Homo sapiens: one gene and its partners. The protein of the gene in region 3 interacts with the protein of the main gene of each other region in a pairwise test. Each region holds a gene or a part of one and is shown on either strand. Other genes may lie near its edges.

Region 1 (7,033 bases), on a different chromosome or scaffold from region 3:
GTGTGAGCTACCCCGCCCGGCCATATTGAGCAGTTTCTAATGATATCTATTTGTAGGTGCACATAGTATTGCTGAATCTATTAAATATTTTAAAGGAGGAATTTTGGTAAATTAATCATGCATTTCTTTTCAATCATTCTCAAGTCCTCAGCCCCTTCCCTTCTACCTTGAGCTCCACCAGTAGTGAGATTTGTCTCACTATCTTTACCAGTGACATAATTACCAAATCTGATGCCTGATATGGTACTTGGATTATTACAGGCACTTTTATTTTCTGGATGAATCAATGAATGAATAAACCGAGTGGCCTGTTTTCAGTGGTACTACAACTTAAATATTCCTTTATCTTTTGAACTCCTTTCCTTTGCAGGACTCTTAATTTCTTCCTTATTCTTCTACTTCTCTGACCTACTTCTTTTTGGTTTCTTTTGCTCTTGCCTTTTTCTGCTAAAATATGATGGTCCCCAAGATTTCTCCTTTGGTCATCCTTCTTCTGTAGCTCTACATGATAGCAAATGATCACTCCAGATCCCTGTCCTGAGTTCTGATCCGTATTTTCAACCATCTACAGATCAAAGCCTCCTACATGTGCACCAAGTACTACACATTTACCATGTTTAAAACCAGAGTCACTATACACTTATTAGAATGGCTATGACTAGCAACAGCAACGACAAAACCCCTTAAATCATCAAATGGAGACAGGATGCAAAGCAACTGGAACTCTCATACATTACTGATGGGAATGCAAGATGGAATACTCACTTTGGAAAGAAGTTTGGCAGTTTCTTATAAAGTGAAACATAAACTTGCCGTATTATCCGTCAGTTCTACTCCTAGATATTTACTGAGTGAAATGAAAACTTATGTTTACACAAACACCTTTACATAAATGTCTGTAGCACATTTATTCATAACCTCCAAAAACTAGAAACCACCCAGATGTTCTTTAACTGGAAAACTGATAAACCGTGATCTGTCCCTACAGTGGAATAACAGCAATAAGAAAGGAGAGTTGATAGATGCCAACAATGTGGACGACTCAAATACCGTGCTAAATGAAAGAAGCCGGATTTATTTTGTTGGTTTTGTTGTTGTTGTTTATTTTACCTTTAGGCTCAGGGGCACATGTGCAAGCTTGTTGTATAGGTAAACTCGTGTCATGGGTGTTGTACAGATTATTTTGTCACCCAGGTACTAAGCCTAGTACCCAATAGTTATTTTTTCTGCATCTCTCCCTCCTCCTACCCTCCACCCTCCGGTAGGCCCCCAGTGTCTGTTGTTCCCTTCTTTGTGTCCATGTGTTCTCCTCATTTAGCTCCCACTTATAAGTAAGAACATGTGGTATTTGTTTTTCTTTTCCTGCATTAGTTTGCTAAGGATAATGTCCTCTAGCTCCATTCATGTTCCCACAGAAGACATGATCACATTCTTTTTTGTGGCTGCATAGTATTTCATGGTGTTTATGTACCACATTTTCTTTATCCAGTCTGTTACTGATGGGCATTTAGGTTGATTCCATGTCTTTCCTATTGTAAAAACTGCTGCACTGAACATTTGTGTGCACATGTTTTTATGGTAGAATGATTTATATCCCTCTGGATATACACCCAGTAATGGAATTGCTGGGCCAAATGGTAGTTCTATTTTTAGCTCTTTGAGGAATTGCCACACTGCTTTCCACAGTGATTGAACTAATTTACATTTGTTTTTTGACTTTTTTTCTTTTCCTTTTTGAGACATGGTCTCACTGTTGCCCGGGCTGGAGTGCAGTGGTGTGGTCATGGCCAATGTAGCCTTGACCTTTGGGCTTAAGTGATTCTTCCACCTCAGCCTTCTGAGTAGCTGAGACTATAGTCACGTGCCACCATGCCTGGGTAATGTTTTGATATTTTGTTGAGACAGGGTCTCATTGTGTGGCCCAGGCTGGTCTTGAACTCCTGAGCTCAAGCAATCCTCCTGGCTCTGCCTCCCGCCTCTGCCTCCCGAAGTGCTGGGATTACAGGTGTGAGCCACCATACCTGGCTCATTTTGACCTTTTAATAATAGCCATTCTGACTGGTGTGAGATGGTATTTTATTCTGGTTTTGATTTGCATTTCTCTAATGATCAGTGATGTTAACCTTTTTTTCATATGCTTCTTGGCTGCATGTATGTCCTTTGAAAAGTGTCTGTTCATGTCCTTTGCTCACTTTTTAATGGGGTTGTTTGTATTTTTCTTGTAAATTTGTTTAAGTTTCTTATAGATGCTGGATATTAGACCTTTATCAGATGCATAGTTTGCAACAATTTTCTCCCATTCTGTAGGTTGTCTTTTACTCTGTTGACAGATTCTTTTGCTGTGCAGGAGCTCTTAAGTTTAATTAGATCCCATTTGTCAATTTTTGCTTTTGTTGCAATAGCCCCTTCGTGATGAAATCTCTGACTATTCCTGTGGCCAGAATGATATTGCCTAGGTTGTCTTCCAGAGTTTTTATAGTTTTGGGTTTTACATTTAAGTCTTTAATCCATCTCGAGTTATTTTGTATATGGAAGGGGTCCAGTTTCAATCTTCTGCATGTAGCTAGCCTGTTATCCCAGCACCATTTATTGAATAGGGAGTCCTTTCCCAATTGCTTCCTTTTGTCAGTTTTGTCAAAGATCAGATGGTTGTAGGTGTGTGGCCTTATTTATGGGCTATTTTGTTTCATTGGTCTATGTGTCTGTTTTTGTACCAGTACCCTGCTGTTTTGGTTACTGTAGCCCTGTAGTACAGATTGAAGTCAGGTAATATGATGCCTCCAACTTTGTTCTTTTTGCTTAGGTTTGCCTTGGCTATTCAGTCTCTTTTTTGGTTCCATATGAATTTGAAAATAGTTTTTTCTAGTTCTGTGAAGAATGTCATTGGCAATTTGATAGGAATAGTGTTGAATCTGTAAATTGCTTTGGCCAGTATGTCCATTTTCACGATATTGATTCTTCCTATCCACAAGCATGGAATGTTTTTCCATTCGTTTGTGTCATCTCTGATTTCTTTTAGCAGCGTTTTGTAATTCTCACTCTAGAGGTCTTTCACCTCCTTGGCTGGCTATATTTTGAGGTATTTTATACTTTTTCTGGGAAGTCAGATTTAAAAGACTACATGCTGTATGAATCCACTTTTCTGAAATTCAGGAAAAGGCAGAACTATAGGGATGGAGAATTAACTTTTTACCAGATGTTAAGGGTCAGGGAGGGCTAATAGGAGCAGCTTGAGGGAGTTTTAGGGGGTGACAACTGTTCTGTGTCTTGATTGTGATAGTTACATGCATGTATATTTGTTAAATTCATAGAAATGTATACGAAAAGAGTGATTTTTACTAAATATAAATTTAAAAATAAACCTAAAATAACGGAATTCATTATTCTTGTCTCAGAAACAAGCCGATATGTAAACACAACAACCACTACTCTGATCCTCCATCCGTATTCTCTGTCTTATGTTATCTTGCCATACTACTCAGATGGCTCAGTTAAAAACCATGGAGTCATCCTCAACTCCCTTTTCTTCCTCACCAGATATCTGTTACATTCATTTGGCCTCTAATTTTTACTGAATCAATTTCAGAAATATTTCTAGAATCCAACTTGTCTTCTATGTTTTCATTGTAGTAACTTGTTTAGTTCACGCCTTCAGCATCTTTCCTATCTCTCTCTCTGAACTATGTAAAAACAACCTTTTCCTTAATTTGTTTAATTCTATTCCTTAGGATCAAGTCCAAATTTCACAGCTGCATTATAGGAACCATATGTCCTCTAACCTACCTTTATAGCTTTATGTTCTGCCATGCATCCTCATTTTGGACACACTTAGTCTCTTACTGTTCTTGGTTATGCAAGGCTTCTTCAAAAACTTTGCCTTTGCATATATTCCTTCTGCTTGAAATGCTTGATTCTCCCCATTTCTCTTTCCTGTTTTTCCTTTAAAATAGGATACCCATGAAGCTTTCAGAAGTCCCTAAGGCACAATTAGTTGCCATATCTTCACTGCTCTCTCAAGATTTAAAGCATGTATTTTAGTGTACTCCTTACAATAAAATTTGCCAATTCATTAGTCTGTCTCTTCAATATCAGGGATGGCAGACAGATGCCAGCCTCTCCTTCTCTTGTGTTTACTTCATAAGCTAATTGGTCACAACATTGTCTCTGGTTGGACATGGATATGTCCTCTGAATTTAACAGAATAACATACTGGGTACTCACTATCTACTGTTAAACTGAAGTTGGCACCCTGCTTTAGGCAGATTTTGTGTGTGTGTGATGTGTAAGTCCAGAATAGGTTATAATATCAGTATTTTAATATTCCTATAAGATAATATCAAGATATCAATACTGTTACATTGTTAAAGTTTATAATTCACTTTCTAAAAGTAAAACTAGCACATATATTCAAATATGAAATATATTTGCATATATTTTATGTATTTATAAAATAGGTATATAAATGTTAATGTTTTAAAATACATTTGCAATAAAACTACTTAAAAATAAAGTATACATGTATTTTAGTATTTCAAAAGAACTAATTATACTGGAGTACTAAAAACTGATATTGTAGTCATAATTCAAGTCCTGACCCTTGTGGCCATAGCTCTTAAGGCAATGCCTTCAGTAAGTGAAAGAAGCCAGACCCCAATAAATATTTGAGATGTGCTTACTGGAGCCTAATATCATATTTCATTAAAAATAAGATACTTCAAAGCTGGTTATTTCTTGATCTAGCCAGAAACTGTAATTTAGAAGACTTTTTTTTTAACCCAAATAATTCATGATTATTTCCTGACAGTAATTATGTTTCAGAAAGGTTAAAACACTGTGGGGGCTAGGGAGACAGGAAAGGTTGTTGCATCTTAGAATCAATAAGATAGGGTAAACTTTGTCTTTGTTTAGACCAAAATTATTTGTTTAAGATATTATTTCTAAAATATGTGGTCATTTTGCTCTAATCTTGATGTGGAATTAAGGGAATGTATTCTTTGTACATAATTTTCAGAATGGGTTTTGTTGACCTGTTAATCAGTGAGCCTGAATTTAGTTGCTAGATTAAGTGTCTCATGTTGTTTTGAGAGAGTGAGTTATCAGTGTCTGTTTTCTTTTCTCCTTCCTTTAAGATGCCATGGCTAGTCCAGGGAAAGATAACTATAGAATGAAAAGTTATAAGAATAAAGCCCTAAATCCTCAAGAGATGCGTAGACGAAGAGAAGAAGAAGGAATACAGCTTAGAAAACAAAAAAGAGAAGAACAGGTAGGTGTTTTTAGCTATTTAATTTTGTTTTTTAAAATTTTAATTATTTGCTAATTATTGGATAATTTTAAATGGAAATGTTTTAAGAAATTGAATATAGCTAAATCTATTATTTATTAGACTCCAGGCATCATAATTGCAAATTTGTGAAACAGAACTCTGTGCTACTTTAGTCACTGGGAGAAATGGATTTTCTGTTTTATTGATAAACCTGTTGTGTTAATTATATTTTTACCCTACTGCTAGGAAATTTTTCCTCTTGCATCTATTTAGATCACTTCCATTTGTCATTGTAAAATTTGCCCCTTAAAGAAACATTAATTATATATTATTTGCTGCTTTGTAGTTTTCATAATTCTTGCCCGTAAGTAAATTATTGTCATCTTCCCATGCTATTCATACTGTTCCCCCATTGTCTTATTAGCTGGATCTCTGTTTATACTTTTCATATGTGACATAAAGAATATAAAATTGTTTAAGAGAGTACATCTCAACATTTTTTATTCCAAGATGTACTTAAATGTAGAAGTATTTGTAAGTAAGTAAAATAATGTGGTTCTCACACATGTGAATTAAAACTGATGTATGAAAAGGACTAGCAGTGAAGAAAGTAGAAAAGGCCTATTCTCTTCTATTGTATTCTATTCTATTGTATTCTGTAAGTAGAGATGGGGTCCTGCTATGTTGCCCAGGCTGGTATTGAACTCCTCGCCTCAAGCAATATTCCTGCCTCTGTCTCTCAAAGTGCTAGGATTACAGGCATGTAATAGGCAAGGCCTATTTCAGAAATATGATAATGATTTCTCATCTCCCTATCTACAGCGTCTAACACAATCCTTCATACATTATAGTAGGTACTAAAAAAATTGTGTTGAATAAATGATTAGAAGGAAGATTGTTTACATATTAAAGAAGAACAGGCTGGGAGCCCTGGCTCACCCCTTTAATCCCAGCACTTTGGGAGGCTGAGGCGGGCGGATCACGAGGTCAGGAGATTGAGACCATCCTGGCTAACAAGGTGAAACCCCATCTCAAAAAAATTAGACATGCGTGGTGGCTGGCGCCTGTTGTCCCAGCTACTCAGGAGGCTGAGGCAGGAGAATGGCGTGAATTCGGGAGGCAGAGTTTGCAGTGAGCCGAGTTGATGCCACTGCACTCCAGCCTGGGCGACAGAGTAAGACTCCATCTCAAAAAAAAAAAAAAAAAGAAGAACGATATTTATTTAGATGTCAAAAAGAATATAAGCAGATTTTGTTTTCCTCAAATTTTGATTTAGGAAATGTAGAGTTATCCCTTGGTTCCAGGATCCTCTGCAGATATCAAAATTCACTGATGCTCAGGTCCTTTATGTAAAATGGCATGGTATTTGCATATTACCTGCACACATCCTCTTGTATATTTTGAGTCATCTCCAGATTACTTATAATATCTAATACAGTGTAAATGCTGTGTAGTTGAGTTGTTATACTGTGTTGTTTTAAAATATGTATTATTGTCGGGCTCAGTGGCTTATGCCTATAATCCCAGCACTTTGGGAGGCCTAGGTGGGCGGGTCACCTGAGGTCAGGAGTTTGAGACCAGCCTGACCAACATGGTGAAACCCCGTCTCTACTAAAAATAAAAAAATTAGCCGAGCATGGTGGCGCACGCCTATAATCCCAGCTACTCAGGAGGTTTAGGCAGGAGGATCGCTTGAACCCAGGAGGTGGAGGTTGCAGTGAGCCGAGATTGTGCCACTGCACTCTGTCCTGGAGACAGAGCGAGACTCCG
Region 2 (7,538 bases), on a different chromosome or scaffold from region 3:
ATTAGCCAGGCGTGGTGGCGCATGTCTGTAATCCCAGCTACTCAGGAGGCTGAGGCAGGAGAATCGCTTGAACCCGGGAGGTGGAGGTTGCAGTGATCCAAGATTGTGCCACTGCACTCCAGCCTGGGCAACAAGAGTGGAACTCCATCTCAAAAAAAAAAAAGTTTTAAAATGTATTATTATTTTTCGTAGAGTTGGGGGTTTTACTATATTGCCTAGGCGGGTCTTAACGCTCAGCCTGAAGTGATCCTCCCACCTTGGCCTCCCAAAGTGCTGGGATTACAGACGTGAACCACTGTGCCTGGCCTTAAATTGTATGTATTTATTTATTTTTAGAGAGAGGGTCTTGCTCTGTTGCCCAGGCTCGAGTGAAGTGGTGAGATCATAGCTCACTGCAGCCTTGAACTCCTGGGCTCAATCAGCCTCCCAAGTAGCTAGGACTACAGGTGTGCATCACGACACCCACTAATTATTATTACTTTTTGTAGAGACAGGGTCTTGCTATATTGCCCAGGCTGGCCTTGAACCCTAGACCTCAAGTGATCCTCCCACCTCAGGCTCCCAGTGCTGGGATTACAGGCATAAGCCAACATGCCCGGGCTGGTTTTATTATTGAATAAGCATAATTTTTCTTTCTTTTTTGACATGGAGTTTCACTCTTGTTGCCCATGCTGGAGTGCAATGGCACAATCTCAGCTCACTGGAACCTCTGCCTCCCGGGTTCAAGTGATCCTCCTGCCTCAGGCTCCGGAGTAGTTGGGATTACAGGTGCCCACCACAATGCCTGGCTAATTTTTTGTATTTTTAGTAGAAAAATACACCACCATATTGGCCAGGCTGGTCTCGAACTCCTGACCTCAGGTGATCCAACCACCTCAGCCTCCCAAAGTACTGGGATTAGAGGCGTGAGCCACTGCACCCGGCTTGAATAAGCATTAAGTTAGAATGTGATGCACATCACTGGCAATCTGGTAAAAGATTGCAAAGGCAAAAAGAAATATCCTTCATTACAGCCAAGCAGGTGTAAACCATTATCCTGTTTTCAAGATAAAATTTCAAATTCCATATTGTTACAGGAGCTGCAGGTTCATATGCCCACTGTGCAGTCACAGCTCTGTGACTCTGAGACGGTGGGGATGCAGCAGAGAGAGTTTAATGATTGCAGGGTGCCGAGCGAGGTGATGGGAGGAGACCCTCAAATCTCTCTCCAGGGAGTTCTGGGCTGGGCTTTTAAGGGGTTTGTGGGGAGTGATGGGCTGGAATATTGGGGTCATTGATTGGTTGGGAAGGGGGATGAAATTGTCAGGGTGTAGAAGCTGCATTTTGCGGGGAGTCAGCTCCTTGTGGGGTCCTTCAGGTCAGCTGAATCAGTAGTTCCATCAAGACCTGAAGGAATATCTCAAAGGGAACACCTAATGTAATGTCCAAGCCGTGATTCAAGAGCAGTTAAGGGGAACTATAATCTTCTGACAGGGGCTGTGTGACTGTGGGGCAACAGGCACCAGATGGCTTTGGGGAAGCAGGTCAGGGAGCAGCTGCCCTGAGATCAATGCTGAGTGCACCGCAAGTTTGGTTTCTTTTCATTTCTCCCTCTCCCTTCTTCTCAAGTTTATAGGGGTGGTTGCAATACCATGTTTTCAAGATAAACAATGACTAGTCCTCACGTAAGAGGACGTGACAACACCTTTAGTCAAACATAGTTCAGCCTTTTTTTTTTTTTTTTTTTTTTGAGACGGAGTCTCGCTCTGTCGCCCAGGCTGGAGTGCAGTGGTGCAATCTCGGCTCACTGCAACCTGCGCCTCCTGGGTTCATGCCATGCTCCTGCCTCAGCCTCCCGAGTAGCTGGGACTACAGGCGCCCGCCACCACGCCCAGCTAATTTTTTGTATTTTTTAGTAGAGACAGGGTTTCACTGTGTTAGCCAGGATGGTCTCAATCTCTGGACCTTGTCATCCGCCCGCCTTGGCCTCCCAAAGTGCTGGGATTACAGGTATGGGCCATCGCGCCTGGCTTTTTTTTTTTTCTTTTGCAACAGAGTCTGGCTCTGTCTCCCAGGCTGGAGGGCAATGGCTCGATCTCGGGTCACTGCAACCTCCACCTCCTGGGTTCAACTGATCCTCCTGCCTCAGCCTCCCAAGTAGCTAGGAATACAGGCGCACACCACCATGCCCAGCTAATTTTGTTTTGTATTTTAGTAGAGATGGGGTTTCACCATGTTGGCCAGGCTGGTCTCGAACTCCTGACCTCAAGTGATCCACCCGCCTCGGCCTCCCAAAGTGCTGGGATTACAGGCGTGAGCCACCACGCCTGGCCCCAGTCTAACTTTATGATGGTAAGTGGGGTGACCACCTGTGTTATTGAATTGGCTTGTATGGTAGGGGTGAGTAGACACAAACTTTTCATATCTTTAGGACAGGAGGTAGCCTGCATCTTGGAGCAAGACTGAAGCCAAGCTTTTCCCTCCTAGGGGAAATGGGAGACAAGAGAGCTAACTGCCTTGACGACGGCATTTCGTCAGGGCTCCCAGGTCCTTGAATTCCTGAATTTGGAGACTGGCAAGTGGCTTATGTAGCCATCATGAAGATTTACATATGCCAGGCTGGGTGCTGTGGCTCACACCTGTAATCCCCGCACTTTGGGAGGCCGAGCCAGGTGGATCACTTGAGGTCAGGAGTTCAAGACCGGCCTGGGCAACATGGTGAAACCCCGTCTCTACTAAAAATACAAAAATTAGCTGGGCAAGGTGGCAGGCAACAGTAATCCCAGCTACTCGGGAAGCTGAGGCAAGAGAATCCTTTGAACCCTGAAGGTGGAGGTTGCAATGAGCTGAGATCGCACCATTGCACTCCAGCCTGGGCAACAGAGCAAAACTCCGAATCAAGAAAAAGAAAAAAATAAAATAAATAGTCGGGCGCAGTGGCTCACGCCTGTAATCCCAGCACTTTGGGAGGCCAAGGCGGGGGCGGAGGGGGGTGGATCACCTGAGGTCAGGAGTTCAAGACCAGCCTGACCAACATGGTGAGACCCCATCTCCACTAAAAATACAAAATTAGCTGGGCATGGTAGTGCACGCCTGTAATCAATCCCAGCTACTTGGAGACTGAGGCACGAGAATTGCTTGAATCTGGGAGGCAGAGGTTGCAGTGAACCGAGATCGAGCCATTGCACTCCAGCCTGGGCAATAAGAGCGAAACTCCATCTCAAAATAAATAAATAAATAAAATTAAATAAATGAATAAAATAAAATTTAAAAATAAATAAATACATAAGATTTTTTTTTGAGATGGAGTCTCACTCTGTTGCCCAGGCTGGAGTGCAGTGGTACAATCTTGGCTCAGTGCAACCTCTGCCTCCTGGGTTCCAGCGATTCTCCTGCCTCAGCCTCCCGAGTAGCTGAGATTATAGGCGCCTGCCACTACGCCTGTCTAATTTTTGTATTTTAGTAGAGACAGGGTTTTACCATGTTGGTCAGGCTGGTCTCGAACTCCTGACCTCAGGTGATCTGCCCACCTCGGCCTCCCAAAGTGCTGGATTATAGGCGTGAGCCACCACGCCCAGCCTTATTATTTCTATCTTTCTTTCTTTTTTTGAGAGAGAGTCTCGCTCTGTCGGCCAGGCTGGAGTGCAGCGGCAGGATCTGGCTCACTGTAACCTCTGCCTCCCGGGCTCAAGCAATTCTCCTGCCTCAGCCTCCTGAGTAGCTGGGATTACAGGCGCACGCCACCACGCCCGCCTAATTTTTGTATTTTTAGTAGAGACGGGGTTTCACCGTGTTGGCCAGGCTGGTCTTGAACTTCTGACCTCGTGATTCGCCTGCCTCGGCCTCCCAAAGTGCTGGGATTACAGGCGTGAGCCACCGCGCGCGGCCAGCCTTATTATTTCTTTAAAGCATTTTTGAGACAGGGTCTCGCCCTGTCACCCAGGCTGGGGTGCAGTGGTGCGATCTCCGCCTCCCGGGCTCCAGCGAAACTCCCACCTCAGCCTCCTGAGTAGTTGGGACCACAGAGGGGTGCCACCACGCCCGGGTAATTTTTGCATTCTTAGTAGAGACGCGGTTTCGCCACATTGGCCAGGCTGGTCTCAAACTCCTGAGCTCAACCAATCTGCCCGCCTCAGCCTTTCAAAGTGCCAGGATTACGGGCGTGAGGCACCGCGCCTGGTTAAATCCGCGGTTTCCACAGGGAATTCCAGGCCCGCCTTCCTTCTCCCGGAAACCTTACCGCTCGAGGACTACATTTCCCAGGATGCCCTGCGACTAACCAAGCCGGAAGACGGTTGTCTTGGTTGGGCGGGTCCGGGAGAGGCTCGTCTGTGGAGAGGTGGCCCAGCCAATGGGTGAGGCCGACTGAATCGAAAGCTACGGTGATTGTGCCGAGGTGATTGGAATCTTTGGCGCCTTGGTTTCAGAGGTGGGCGCATGATGAGCGGGTACAGAGACCAATGAAAAGGCGGGAAGGCGGATCCCGCGCGTGGGGCGCGAAGAGTTGCTGACGAGCAGGCTGTTTGTCCAATGCAAGGCGAAAGTCGCTGAAGGGGGCGGGGCGAGGCGAGAGGAGGCGGGCGTGTGTTGTGGAGGAAAGTGTGCCATGGCGGAGCCTGTGGGGAAGCGGGGCCGCTGGTCCGGAGGTAGCGGTGCCGGCCGAGGGGGTCGGGGCGGCTGGGGCGGTCGGGGCCGGCGTCCTCGGGCCCAGCGGTCTCCATCCCGGGGCACGCTGGACGTAGTGTCTGTGGACTTGGTCACCGACAGCGATGAGGAAATTCTGGAGGTCGCCACCGCTCGCGGTGCCGCGGACGAGGTTGAGGTGGAGCCCCCGGAGCCCCCGGGGCCGGTCGCGTCCCGGGATAACAGCAACAGTGACAGCGAAGGGGAGGACAGGCGGCCCGCAGGACCCCCGCGGGAGCCGGTCAGGCGGCGGCGGCGGCTGGTGCTGGATCCGGGGGAGGCGCCGCTGGTTCCGGTGTACTCGGGGAAGGTGCGCCCGGTCCCGGGGAGGGGACCGGCGGAAGGGCCAAGGGCTTGGCCTCCAGGGAGGGGCCGGCGTTCGGGGAGGGTAGGGCTATAGGGGTGTTGAGGCTGGCGTTCTGGGGCTGGTCCTCGGGCGTTAGGGTGTTGGAGGCAGGGAGAGGCAGGGCTCCGGGACTTTCTGCAGACTGGGGTGGTGAAGGAGGGTGGGATGCGTTGGAAGTTTAGGATTCCTAGGAGCTAGAGTCTTGGGGGCACAGGGAGGCTGAAGAGCTGGGATTCCTGAGATTTTGGAGAGGGACTGGGAGGACCTGGGGCCGTTGGATTTTGAGGTTGGGGTCCATGGCAAATGAAGCCAGGGAGCTGCAGTATTGGGGGTTGGGGTCCATGCGGGTTCAGAGAGGACTGGGCGGCTCCAGAGGCTGGGGTCCCCCGATGGTCGTGTGAGCAATGGGCTGAGAGTCCCTAAGAGTCAGGGGTAGAGGGGCGGCTAGTAACCTAGTTAAAAAGGGCAAGGAAGCATACATTTCAGAGTGTCTTAGGCAGATGGAGGAAAGGGTGAAGGGTACTTCCATTCTGAATCCTGGGGAAGCTGGACTTCTAGGTTGCCAGGAGAGGGCCAAGGTGTCCACGATCTTAGGGAGGATTTGGGAGCTGGGTGTCAGGGAAGAATTACCCCCAATTTTTTCTTTCGGTAGGGGAAGGACTTGGGCCTGACCCCTCTCCCTTCTTTGTCTTTGCAGGTTAAAAGCAGCCTTCGCCTTATCCCAGATGATCTATCCCTCCTGAAACTCTACCCTCCAGGGGATGAGGAAGGTAAGGGAGGGCCTCCAGGGAGAGGCACGCAGCCGCTGGCTTCTCTTAAGAGAATTCCTGGGGTTTATATTCCTGCAGTCAGTTGTCTCCTGAGGCTCAAGGGAAGAGCGTGGGAGAGGGGACTCCTGCATCCCAGCCACAGGAGCTGGATTGTTAACAAGCATAGAATGTATTAATGTATACATTTCTGGTGCCACCTGAAGAGATGCTGATTCTGTAGTCCTGGGCGGGGCAGGAGGCGGTAAGGTGTTGAGAATCTGTGACATCTTGTTACATCTGCAGCAAGTTCTTTGGGAACACTGGAGCCAGCAGGGTGTTCTCTGAATCTTATCAGGGATGCCCTGTCTTTGTCCTCCCCCACTGATGCATTTTTTGCAAACAACTCAAGGGCGGGGAATAGGAATCTAGTCTAATAAGGAAATAATCCAGTGGGCAAATGGAGACCTTGGACCAAGACTCTTGTACCATGAGGGAGTACAGTGGGGTGATTAAAAGCAAACAGGAGCCATCTGGCCTGGGTTTGAATCTCAGTTCTCTCTTTTTTTTTTTTTTTTTTAGACAGAGTTTCGCTTTTGTTGCCCAAGCTGGAGTGCAATGGCACGATCTCGGCTCGCTGCAACCTCCACCTCCTGGGTTCAAGCGATTCTCCTGCCTCAGCCTTCCCAGTAGCTGACTAATTCCCACCACGCCTGGCTAATTTTTTGTATTTTTAATAGAGATGGGGTTTCACCATGTTGGCCTGGCTGGTCTTGAACTCCTGACCTCAGGTGATCCGCCCATCTTAGCTTCCCAAATTGCTGGGATTACAGGCGTGAGCCACTGTGCCCGGCCTCAGCTCTATCTCTTAATAGCTGTGTGATCTTAGGCGAGTTTCTTTTTTCTTGTTTTGAGACAGAGTCTCACTCTGTCACCCAGGGTGGAGTGTAGTGGCGCAATCTTAGCTCACTGCAACCTCCATCTCCCAGGTTGAAGCCATTCTCCTGCCTCAGCCTCCCGAGTAGCAGGGATTACAGGCGCCCGCCACCATGTCTGGCTTTTTTGTATTTTTAGTAGAGATGGGGTTTCATCATGTTGGCCAGGCTGATCTCGAACTCCTGACCTTAGGTGATCTGTCTGCCTTGGTCACCCAAAGTGCTGGGATTACAGGCGTGAGCCACCACGCCCAGCCTGGGCAAGTTTCTTAATTTCTCAGTGCTTCAATTTCCTCATTATCAAAGTGGGGATAATAGTAGACCCCATTTTGGTGCTGATTTTGGTGAGAATTAACGAAAGGGAATATAGAGAGAGCTGCCTCTTGGCTAGATATATGCTTTAGGACAGTACCTAGGACACAGAAGTGCTACGTAAAAGGTACCTCTATCCCTGATACTCAAAACGTGGGCCCAGCCATATATGGCATCCGTTGGAAGCTTGCTAGAAATGCAGGATCGGCTGGGCACAATGGCTCAAAGTGCTGTAATCCCAGCACTTTGGGAGGCTGAGATGGGAGGATTGCTTGAGCCCAGGAGTTCGAGACCAGCCTGCGCAACATGATGAGACCCTGTTTCTACAGAAAAATAAAAAATTAACCAGGCATGGTGATGTGTACTTGTAGTCCTAGCTACTCAGGAGGCTGAGGTGGGAGAAACACCTGAGCCCAGGAAGTCGAGGCTGCAGTGAGCCATGATCATGCCACTGCACTCCAACCTGGGTGACACAGTAGGACCTGGTCTCAAAAAAAAAAAAAGAAAAACGAAATGCAGAATCATAGGCCTCTTGCA
Region 3 (4,557 bases):
AGCCAGGATGGTCTTGATCTCCTGACCTCATGATCCGCCCACCTCGGCCTCCCAAAGTGCTGGGATTACAGGCGTGAGCCACAGCGCCTGGGCCTTATTTTTTTTGTTTTATAGAGATGGGGTCTCACTATTTTGGCCAGGTTGGTCTTGAACTCCTGGCCCCAAGCAGTCCTCCTGCCTTGGCCTCCCAAAGTGTTAGGATTACAGGTGTCAGCCACTATGCCTGGCCTTTATTTTCATTTTATATTGCATACTTGTGGGTGTCTGGAAAATGCCCCTTGTTAGTTGCATGAAGTGAAGGAGAATAAAAGGCACTTGGAGCTTATTTCTCCTGCAGTGGTCTCTAATCTTTGAGGTGTCCTGGGTCTCTTTTGGGAATCTGATTCTCATAAAATAAAAGCTCATAAAAACTGTGAACTGTCATTCTTTTTTTTTTTTTGAGACAGAGTTTTGCTCTTGTTGCCCAGGCTGGAGTGCGATGGCACAATCTCGGCTTACTGCAACCTCTGCCTCCCGAGTTCAAGTGATTCTCCTGCCTCAGCCTCTCAAGTATCTGGGGTTACAGGCGTGCGCCACCACACCCGGCTAATTTTGTATTTTTAGTAGAAACGGTATTTCACCATGTTGGTCAGGCTGGTCTCAAACTCCTGACCTCAAGTGATCTACCCGCCTCGGCCTCCCAGAGTGCTGGGATTACAGGCTAGAGCCACCGCACTCGGCCTAAGCCCTCATCCTTGAAAAGCACATACGTATCTTCATTTTGATACAGTGGGTTATTAGAAAAGTAAACCCCTTTCCACTTGGAGGAGGTAGAGGGGAAGAAAAAGCATACCCCAAAGCTCTGTTTTATTCTTCCCAGCTGTGCCAAAGGTCAAGCTGCTGTGTGGGGCAGATTTATTGGAGTCCTTTGCTGTTCCCAATTTGTGGAAGAGTGAAGACATCACCCAAATCGTGGCCAACTATGGGCTCATATGTGTTACTCGGGCTGGAAATGATGCTCAGAAGTTTATCTATGAATCGGATGTGCTGTGGAAACACCGGAGCAACATTCACGTGGTGAATGAATGGATCGCTAATGACATCTCATCCACAAAAATCCGGAGAGCCCTCAGAAGGGGCCAGAGCATTCGCTACTTGGTACCAGATCTTGTCCAAGAATACATTGAAAAGCATAATTTGTACAGCTCTGAGAGTGAAGACAGGAATGCTGGGGTCATCCTGGCCCCTTTGCAGAGAAACACTGCAGAAGCTAAGACATAGGAATTCTACAGCATGATATTTCAGACTTCCCATTTGGGGATCTGAAACAATCTGGGAGTTAATAACTGGGGAAAGAAGTTGTGATCTGTTGCCTAAACTAAAGCTTAAAAGTTTAGTAAAAATCGTCTGGGCACAGTGGCTCACGCCTGTAATCCCAGCACTTTGGGAGGCTGAGGCAGGTGGATCACGGGGTCAAGAGATCGAGACCATCCTGGCCAATATGGTGAAACCCCATCTCTACTAAAAATACAAAAATTAGCTGTGTGTGGTGGCACGTGCCTGTAGTCCCAGCTACTTGGGAGGCTGAGGCAGGAGAATCACTTGACCCCAGGTGGTGGAGGTTGCAGTGAGCCAAGATTGCACCATTGCACTCCAGCCTGGCGACAGAGCAAGACTCTGTCTCAAAAAAAAAAAAAAATTTAGTAAAAATCAATGGTAAGCTAAAATAAGTTTTTGTTTGTTTATTTGTTTTTGAGATGGAGTCTCTACTAAAAATACAAAAAATTAGCCAGGCATGGTGCCGCATAACTATAATCCCAGCTACTTGGGAGGCTGAGGCAGGAGAATCGCTTGAACCCGGGAGGCACAGGTTCCAGTGAGCCAAGGTTGTGCCACTGCACTCCAGCCTGGGCAAAAAAGCAAAACTCCATCTCAAAGAGAAAAAAAAAAAAGACCGGGTGTGGTGGCTCACACCTGTAATCCCAGCACTTTGGGAGGCCTAAGTGGGTGGATCACGTGAGGTCAAGAGTTCAAGACCAGCCTGGCCAATATGGTGAAACCCCATCTCTACTAAGAATACAAAAAATTAGCTGAGCATGGTGGTGGGCTCCTGTAGTCCCAGCTACTTGGGAGGCTGAGGCAGGAGAATCGCTTGAACCTGGGAGGCAGAGGTTGCAGTAAGCCAAGATCGTGCCATTGCACTCCAGCCTGGGTGACAGAGCGAGACTCCATCTCAAAAAAAAAAAAAAGCCTGACAGCTAGCAGGTTTCAGGATCCATCTGCCAAGTTAGTGAAAGGCTGGAGCCTCAAATCATACAGATGAGGGTCATTTTCTCCTCCTTAGCTTCTTGGAGTTTAAGAGTTGAAGGAGTCCTGAAAAGTAATGATAGAGCAAGATGAAGCTATCAGAACTGAATTTGGACTTCCTCTGGGAAACTACACCTAGTTCATCTGAAGTGTCACGTAAACTGCAGAAAGTTTCCAATGCTGGAAACTTCTCTCATACTATCGTGCCTTCCTACTCAGAAGTGCCTGTGCCCTGCTCAGCTGTGACTACTGACCTCAGGACCTCACTGGACAAGGCATGTGGGGACCCTTGCAGGAGCCCTGGTAAGGGTACAATGATCCTATTGTTTTTTGTTTTTGAGATGGAGTCTCACTCTGTCTCCCAGGCTGGAGTGCAGTGGTGCGATCTCCGCTCACTGCAACCTCCGCCTCCCGGGTTCAAGCAATTCTCCTGCCTCAGCCTGCTGAGTAGCTGGGATTACAGGCACCCACTACCATGTCCGGCTAATTTTGTATTTTTAGTAGAGATGGGGTTTCGCCATGTTAGACAGGCTGGTCTTGAACTCCTGACCTCAGGTGATCTGCCCACCTCGGCCTTCCAAAGTGCTGGGATTACAGGCATGAGCCACTGCACCCAGCCTGATCCTATTGTTGCACTATTTATGGAGCAACAACTTTGTACAAAGAACAAGCTTTGTACAGAGAACAAGCTTGGCTTTTTCTCCCAACGCCGAGGATGCTGTTGATGCTGCCACGTAATAGCATAATTTTGGGTGTCCTCAAGGACAGAACTTCCACTTTGAATAATGGAAGTTAGAACAATGAATTTCACAGGGGAATAAATATTAATGACTGACGTGAAGAAAATATGCCATTGTTTATTCCCTCCTGCATCATTTCCATAATTTGCTTTTGTACTGTCAATTTAGAGGAAATGTGTGATGCTGGTGTTTTGTTTGGCCTGTTTGTTTGATGCTGGGGGTTTTATGTGTTGTACCCTTTACCCCTTACATTGTGTAATTTGAAAGTGGCAAACAAACCTGCAGTAAAAGTCCTTGATTGGCATCTTCATTCGGATGATGGAGAGCCTTTGTGGTAGTGTTTGCTTATGTGAACAGCAGGCCTTTCAGATAAGAGAAGTGGCTTTTCCTTGGTGATGAAGGGGTAGAGATTGAGCCATGGGGATGGTTTAGGTTAAAGAATGCTTTTTTTTGGCCATCATGAGGATCTAACAACAGAGTAGAAGGAAGGATGCCCTAGGTCAGCATGCAGGGTGGTGGGAGGGCTTTCATCTTCCTTACCCAAGCCTCTCTTTTCACTTTTCTAGAAGTCCAGAAGTTGTTATATGATGAAATAGCCTCCTTTAACGTTTATTTCTGGGTGCCAACGGAGGCCCATTCCTCTAACATTCTCATAATTTTTCTCAAAGGCCTATGATCTAAACATTTCACCACGGCATCCACTCAGCTGTGAGGCTGCGTACACAGTCTCCACCTCTGAAATCTGAACTTCGTTTACCAGTGGTGCTGTTTGAACTTCATAATGTCAGCACTTCCTGAACACTTACTGTGTGCTTGGCTTGTGCTCCTGAGTGCCTTATATCATAAGGAAACGGCAAAATCAGGGGACTGGTATAAATGGTGAGCTGAGCTTGAATCTAAGCTTTGTCTTCAGAGCCAGTACCCCTAATCTCTCTTTCTGTAAAATATTACTTTTCAAAGAATGAAGTTGTAGCCAAATCTTGAAATTTTTCATTTACCCTAAGTGAGGACAAATAAAGCTTTCAACAACAGTTTGTGGTAGTCTGATGGAGATGAGTCCGACGTATTCAGTCCTCACGGAAGGACTAGGCTGAACTTGCCCAGTGTTAGCAATTCCTTGGAACTAGAACAGTGGAATCCGAGGGAGAAGGTGATATGGGCCATAATTAACTTTTGTGTTTGTGTGTGTGTGTATGTGTGTGTGTGTTTGCTTCTGAGACAGTTTTGCTGTGTCACCCAGGCTGGAGTGCAGTGGCACAGTCTCGGCTCACTGCAACCTCTGCCTCCTGGGTTCAAGCAATTCTCCTGCTTCAGCCTCCCAAGGAGCTGGGATTACAGGCGTGTGTTACCACGCCTGGCTAATTTTTGTATATTCAGTAGAGACAGGGTTTCACCGTGATGGCAAAGCTGGCCTCAAATGATCCGCCCACCTTGGCCTCCCAAAGTGCTGGAATTACAGGTGTGAGCCATCACGCTCTGCCCAGATAGGGTTTTTGACCTGTCATAGTGGTGCCTGGTCCCATTATTCTCT
Region 4 (6,896 bases), on a different chromosome or scaffold from region 3:
TAAAAAACATTCTGATAATGGCCGGTGATGAAGCAAGCACAATAGCTGAAATAATAGAGGAATGTGGAGGTAAGAGTGGATTGATGGAAGAAGAGTATTTGAGCACTGGAACTCTGAAACATAAGTTCTTTAAAGTCAACTTACTAGACAGAAAATTACTAGGATACGTTGTTTTTAAATGATCACAGTATGTTGCTTTTCTTTATTCACTATATTTGCATTCCAAGAGGATTTTCCAGAAGACAGTAGTCCATACTTTGCAAAATCAGGTTGTGAAAGTCACTGTATAGCCTTCTAGAGATTGACAACATAGCTTTTTTTTTTTTTTTTGGAGACAGAATCTTGCTCTGTCGCCCAGGCTGGAGTGCAGTGGCACAATCTCAGCTCATTGCAACCTCTGCCTCCCGAGTTCAAGCAATTCTCACACCTCAGCCTCCCAGGTAGCCGGGATTACAGGCGCACACCACCACACCCAGTGGATTTTTGTGTTTTTAATAGAGACGAGGTTTCACCATGTTGGCCAGGCTGGTCTCGAACTCCTGACCTCAAGTGATCCACCTGCCTCAGCGTCCCAAAGTGCTGGGATTACAGGCATGAGCCACTGCGCCTGGCCTGACATTGCATTTTAGGAAACACTAATACTTCTCTTGAAGTCACAGTGCATGACAGCAAATTTAAGAGCCCTTACAACACTACATAAATTTTAAAGCTTTATTTAATCCAGCATTTCTTAAACTTCTTAACAATGAAACACTTTTTTTGTGTGTTATTACCATGTAATTCTGTGGACCCCACTTTAGGAAATATTATTTCATATAGTTGGAAAAGGTTACTGACTTCTGAGTCACCTAGATATTTTGTTTCAATCTTGTAATGATTCTTAGGATTTCCACAACTACATCCTGAAGTTATTACTGTGGCAGTTACTTTGAAATTTTAATGAGAAATAATTGTGATTTGACATACTGTATTATTCTTTAATGACATGTGAAACATATGTTAAAATTCTGTTTTTAAATGTACATGTTCAATATGTACTAACATGTTTAAACCTTAAATTAGTTTATCATAATGTCATGTTTTAGATTTTACATTTCATTGACTACTTTATATGAATATTCTATTGTTTATTTATTTATTTATTTTAAGAGAAAACAAATGCAGTAGTACCGTAGAATATTCAGACTGGGAGGATTTCTTTCTTTCTATTTATTTATTTATTTATTTATTTATTTATTTATTTATTTATTTATTTTTTATTTATTTATTTTTTTTTTGAGACAGAGTTTCGCTCTTGTTGCCCAGGCTGGAGTGTAATGGCTCACCGCAACCTCCGTCTCCCGGGTTTAAGCAATTCTCCTACCTCAGCCTCCCTAGTAGCTGGGATTATAGGCATGCACCACCACGCCCGGCTAAATTTTTGTATTTTTAGTAGAGGCAGGGTTTCTCCGTGTTGGTCAGGCTGGTCTTAAACTCCCAACCTCGGGTGATCTGCCCGCCTCGGCTTCCCAAAGTGCTGGGATTACAGGCGTGAGCCACTGCACCCAGCCGGGAGGGTTTCTTGAGAAGAAATTATCCCACAGATTTTAAGGAGTCTTGTCCAAGGTGACAGAAGTAGGTTGTGATAGAAGCAAAGTTAAAATCCAGATCTTCTTACTATTAAGATAATTAAAAATTGTAGTCAGGTTCATAACACAGTAAGTTTGAGCAACTTAGAGAATTACTACTCTTCAGCTTTTTATCAATATAGTTACTTTTGTCTATAGGAGTAATAGGATACATATTAATATTTTATAATTGTATAAAGCACTTTGGCAACGATTTCCCCCATTCTTTTGGTTTATTAGTATATAAGAAAAAATTGCAACTATTTTAAAATAACCTTCAAAAAGACATTTCAAGGAAGAATATTAAGGTGTGAAATTGATAAACATGTATATGATGTGTGGAGTAAATATATTGGAAATATAAATGAAGGCATTCTATGATATCTGTTCTGGAAATATTTTCTCCCAGGTTCATTGTGGCTATAGGACATAAGACCTCTATTCATTTTTTAAAGAAAGTTTTTCAAAATTTAAATCTTTATATCTTTTATACCAATTATAAGGTTCTAAAAACTCATTTTGTGGTTATATAAAGGTAATAACATTTGGAAAACAAAGAGAAAGATACAAATTACTTTATGAGGCAGTAAGATTAATAAGATTGGCCGGGTGCAGTGGCTCACTCCTGTAATCCCAGCACTTTGGGAGGCCAAGGCGGGCGAATCACGAGGTCAGGAGTTCGAGACCAGCCTGGCCAACATGGTGAAACCCCGTCTCTACTAAAAACACAAAAAATTAGCTGGGCATAGTGGTGGGCACCTGTAATCCCAGCTACTTGGGAGGCTGAGGCAGGAGACACTTGAACCCAGGAGGTGGAGGTTGCAGTGAGCCGAGACGTGCCACTGCACTCCAGCCCTGGCTACAGAGTGAGACTCCGTCTCAAAAAAAAAAAAAAAAAAGAAAGAAAGAAAAAATGCCCAGGCGCAGTGGCTCACGCCTGTAATCCCAGCACTTTGGGAGGCCGAGGTGGGCAGATCACGAGGTCAGGAGATCAAGATCATCCTGGCTAACATAGTGAAACCCCGTCTCTGCTAAAAATAGAAAAACTTAGCCGGGTGTGGTGGCGGGCGCCTGTAGTCCCAGCTACTTGGGAGGCTTAGGCGGGAGAATGGCATGAACCCAGGAGGCGGAGCTTGCAGTGAGCCGAGATCACACCTCTGCACTCTGCACTCCAGCCTGGGTGACAGAGCGAGACTCCGTCTCAAAAAAAAAATAGATTAGTAAATTTATATTAAAGCACTGTGGGGGAGTTGGTTCTAGTACTGTCACAAACTTGCCATATAACTTGAAATAAGTCTCTTTACATATTTATGCCACAGCTTCCCTCTGTCAAATGGATTGTTTGGGTGTTTTTTTAGACTGTCTGCCTCAGGGATCCGGGTACCTCAAGGGCTTCTAAGAAGGAAAAAATTAGTGGGATTCTGGTCCTCCAACTAGAAGCAGCCCCGTGTTTTGTCTGTTTTTTAGACAAACCACTATCTTAGATGGGGGAGCAGTGTGTTCTGAGTTCCTTAGGATTTCTCCATGATTAAAATGAGTGTGGTTTTGATTAGTATCTCCTTATCAATTAACCAGTTATTTTGATTATTTTATTTTTACCAGGTTTGGAGAAAATTGAAGTTTTACAGCAACATGAAAATGAAGACATATATAAATTAGCATTTGAAATCATAGATCAGTATTTCTCTGGTGATGATGTAAGTAGATATTAAAATAGCGTGTATCTTCATGTAAATGAAAACCTATACATGATGTAAATTTACTAAGAGTTTTCCTTTTATTATTAGGATGACATAAGTTTGTACTGTATTTCTATTAGACATTCCATCAGTCACTTTCTCTTAAATACTTTGAAACTTCATTATAAGGTAAAGTTGTAAAAACAGTTCTTGTTTCATTTCTAATCTATTAACTAGGAAGAAATAGTAATTATATAAGTGATATATGTTCAGATAGGTTAAATAAATCTAGGTCCCAGATACAGAAACTTAACAATGCAGTTTCGAAACGTGTTAAATTTTAAATTGTTAAATTTCTTAATAAAATTATTGATTTACTCGAATATTTTTAGTTGGTTAAAGCATTCACATAGAATTATTTGCTAAGAGGTAAAAAGTCAATTCCACTTACATCATAATGTATAGTATCATAACCTAATAAGGATTTTTTTCTTGTTTTTTACAGATTGATGAAGATCCCTGCCTCATTCCTGAAGCAACACAAGGAGGTACCTACAATTTTGATCCAACAGCCAACCTTCAAACAAAAGAATTTAATTTTTAAATTCAGTTGAGTGCAGCATCTTTCCCACATTCAATATGAAGCACCACCAGATGGCTACCAAATGATAAGAACAACAGCAACAAAAGGCTCCAAAACACACATGCCTCTTTGTTTTGATGCTTCTAAAGCAAGCCATGTCTCAGTCACTTTGCAGTTGCCAAAAGTCACTATCACATGGACTGTAAATGCATATGCATGATTTCCTAAACTGTTTTAGAACTCTCCTTAACAATCTCAACTACCCTATTTTTCCCTGTTCCCTGGTGCCACAGGCTGACAACTGCAGTCTCCAGTTTAGAATAAATATTCCATAGTGGTGACATGTCAGCTGCCCACTGATACTCCTTTGGAAAATGGTGCGCTGTGGATCAAGACACTTTGGTATGATGCATATACAAGTTGGAAGACTAAAGAGGTGCAGTGTGATCTGAGCCTCCATCATTGTCCTCCACAAACATATTTTCATATTCTTTATGTGGAAGAATAGATTTTAAAGTACAAGCCAAATGATTTTCATTGGTGGAACTGACACAAAAAAAGTAACTTAAAAACAAGAAACTTGGTTATTGAATAAACAGATAAGTTTAAAAAAAAAAAAAAACTACTTCATCTACCAGTAATTGATGTGTTTATTATCTGCCTCAGAAGCCAGGGTTGGAGGAAGAACTTTAGATATGGATATTAATGCTTTTGCCATTATACCTAATTTTTGAGAACAGCAAGCCCTATTTGACCACTCTCTTCAGCCTGTGTGTTCCTGCTGTTTTGAAGTAATCAAATGCTGTGCATGGTATTTTACCTGAGCTGCAACCTGTTATGGACTTGAACTTCTGTTTAAGTTGAAAGCAAGAGTCCCTGAGTATAAAGGAAAAACAGCAAAACAAAAAGCAAACAAAAAAAAACTGCAAAAGTCTAAAATACCCATTGGTGATGTTTTTTAAAAAAATCTTGCTTTCAGCTTTCAGGAGTTAATATTCTTTGTTTTAATTTGATAATTGGATATGGTTGATTTATATTGGGTTTAAACTGTGGAGCTTTCATGTTTACTGTAATTTAGTCTTAAAATATTTTTTACTTAGTAACCAGTGCTTTTGATAATGTGGTTGGCAACAAACCAGCAACTATTTAGAAGTGTCATAAGAGTTCATTCTTTGAGTATTGGGAAAGTTAATTCAGATCCTACTCAAAAAGCATCTTCACATATTAAAAGATTCAGACAGGGATCTGTGTAGAGGAGTAATTTGCAGTTATTTAACATAAACCTGATTTGCAGTGATCTCTAAGTAATTCTGCAAAATCCGGTATTACTATGTCAAGTTATTGCTTTTGGTAAATTGTCTGACCCAGTTATTAATGAAAGAATATGGATTTAAAAATTTTTAAACTAAATAATTTGTGCTGTCACAGAAATGGTATTGTTGCTCTTGTTTACTGGGTATAATTTCCCAATGCATTGATGTGAAGGGATAGAAAATCTAAACTAATTTAGTTATCCATTGGGGGGTGTATTTACTGTGATGAAGATGAGACAGATGCCATCAGAGCTTTGTGAATCAGCTGGGGTGTTTTCACTGATAAACAACACATAGCAGGTGTGCATTCATTACAAATATATGTATCTGCCAAGGTGGAGCCACTTTAAAGAGTGAGTTTTGTCTTGTATCTAAAGTGGATACAAGCGTATGTTTAAACTGCAAGATTTTTACTTGCTAGAGAATCTGTTTTAATATAGTGGTTTGGCCTCTGATTATTTATAGGTTTTATAAATTTTAGAATCAATTTCTCTTTAAGGTGGCTCAGATTTTTCAACTCTTGTGCACATAAAATTGAGTTGAAGTTCATTGTGCCTTTTTTTCTTTATCCAAATTTTGAGTTAAAGCTTCATATGGTAACTGCATCCTGTTCGGACACTATAGTCTAAATTTTTGAAACTGTGTGGTGTTCGCTAAAAGTAGGAATAACAACGTAAAAGCTAATTAAGGTCACAAACTTCGGTGAAACCCTTAAAAGTCCAAATCTTCTTGATATTGTGAACCGTACCCCTTCCAGTTTAGTTTCTTCTGGACTTTCCTTACTTAACTGACAGTTACCTTTTAAAATTTGCACACATTATGATTAAAATTGGGCCTCTACTGTGATGATTCCTATTTCCTCTCATGTTTTAAAGTGCAAACTAACATTTAAGTGAACATTAGCATCAAGTAGTGCAGACACTTGTATGCATTTCCTTGATTCAATTTGTGACCTTACCAGTTTTGAATTGGAATTGCACCATTTCGTAGATAAAGGAAACTAAGTATATTGCTGCACTTTTAAGTTTTCAAAACAGTGTTTAAAAATTGCATTGTTATTTTTTTTTAAACTCAGTTTAAAAAGACTAAAACGTTCTTTCAAAAGAGGCATCTAAATGTGTTCCTAATTTTGTATATGGGCTTAGGTTTTGTAACCAATAAAAAAAGCTGCTATCAAATATGATAAAACATTGAAAACTTATTTCTGAAAATAACTTGTTTGTTTTCTGTATGGTTAAATTTAAATTTGGAATTATTTTTTTAAAAATCACAATGGAGGTAAATCATGAATTACTCTTTTACTGTATTTTAATATCTCCTTCACACCATATTACTGAACTAAACTGGAGTCTGTTCACCTGGCACAGTTAGGCCAAACATTCATAGCAAGGTTTTGCAGCAGGAAAAAGGAGGGCATTTATCTGCAGGCAGGGCACCAAACAAGAAAAATGAGGCAGCTCACACTTAAGACCCAACTTCCCTCATGGCTTTACAAGCAAGGGTTTTTAAAGGCAGGGGTGAATTTCAGGAAAGCATAAATTACAGGCAGAATTGTACATCAGTACACAATGGTTTGGCCTAGAAAGGTGGGCTGTCTTGAAGCCGAGGGTGGCAGGGGGTGACTTATAGGTCATAGGTGAATTCACAGATTTTCTTATTTGCAGTTGATTAAGGAATCAAAGCTTTGTCAAAAAACTTGGGGTCAGCAGAAAAG

The links.
Region 1: the proteins of NMNAT1 (region 3) and KPNA5 interact in binary tests that used the Homo sapiens proteins (3 or more experiments, as listed by UniProt).
Region 2: the proteins of NMNAT1 (region 3) and NFATC2IP interact in binary tests that used the Homo sapiens proteins (3 or more experiments, as listed by UniProt).
Region 4: the proteins of NMNAT1 (region 3) and KPNA3 interact in binary tests that used the Homo sapiens proteins (3 or more experiments, as listed by UniProt).

The regions. Positions count from the first base shown.
Region 1 is NC_000006.12:116,684,191-116,691,223, forward strand, and holds part of KPNA5 (importin subunit alpha-6), read left to right. Parts: intron 1-5,129; coding exon 5,130-5,263; intron 5,264-7,033. UniProt on the Homo sapiens protein: Functions in nuclear protein import as an adapter protein for nuclear receptor KPNB1. Binds specifically and directly to substrates containing either a simple or bipartite NLS motif.
Region 2 is NC_000016.10:28,946,427-28,953,964, forward strand, and holds the start of NFATC2IP (NFATC2-interacting protein), read left to right. Parts: upstream 1-4,510; 5' UTR 4,511-4,585; coding exon 4,586-4,972; intron 4,973-5,705; coding exon 5,706-5,778; intron 5,779-6,475; exon of another isoform or gene 6,476-7,538. UniProt on the Homo sapiens protein: In T-helper 2 (Th2) cells, regulates the magnitude of NFAT-driven transcription of a specific subset of cytokine genes, including IL3, IL4, IL5 and IL13, but not IL2.
Region 3 is NC_000001.11:9,981,442-9,985,998, forward strand, and holds the end of NMNAT1 (nicotinamide/nicotinic acid mononucleotide adenylyltransferase 1), read left to right. Parts: exon of another isoform or gene 1-325; intron 326-859; coding exon 860-1,260; 3' UTR 1,261-3,694; coding exon of another isoform or gene 3,695-3,702; 3' UTR 3,703-4,057; downstream 4,058-4,557.
Region 4 is NC_000013.11:49,698,794-49,705,689, reverse strand, and holds the end of KPNA3 (importin subunit alpha-4), read left to right. Parts: coding exon 1-69; intron 70-3,209; coding exon 3,210-3,304; intron 3,305-3,791; coding exon 3,792-3,890; 3' UTR 3,891-6,370; downstream 6,371-6,896. UniProt on the Homo sapiens protein: Functions in nuclear protein import as an adapter protein for nuclear receptor KPNB1. Binds specifically and directly to substrates containing either a simple or bipartite NLS motif.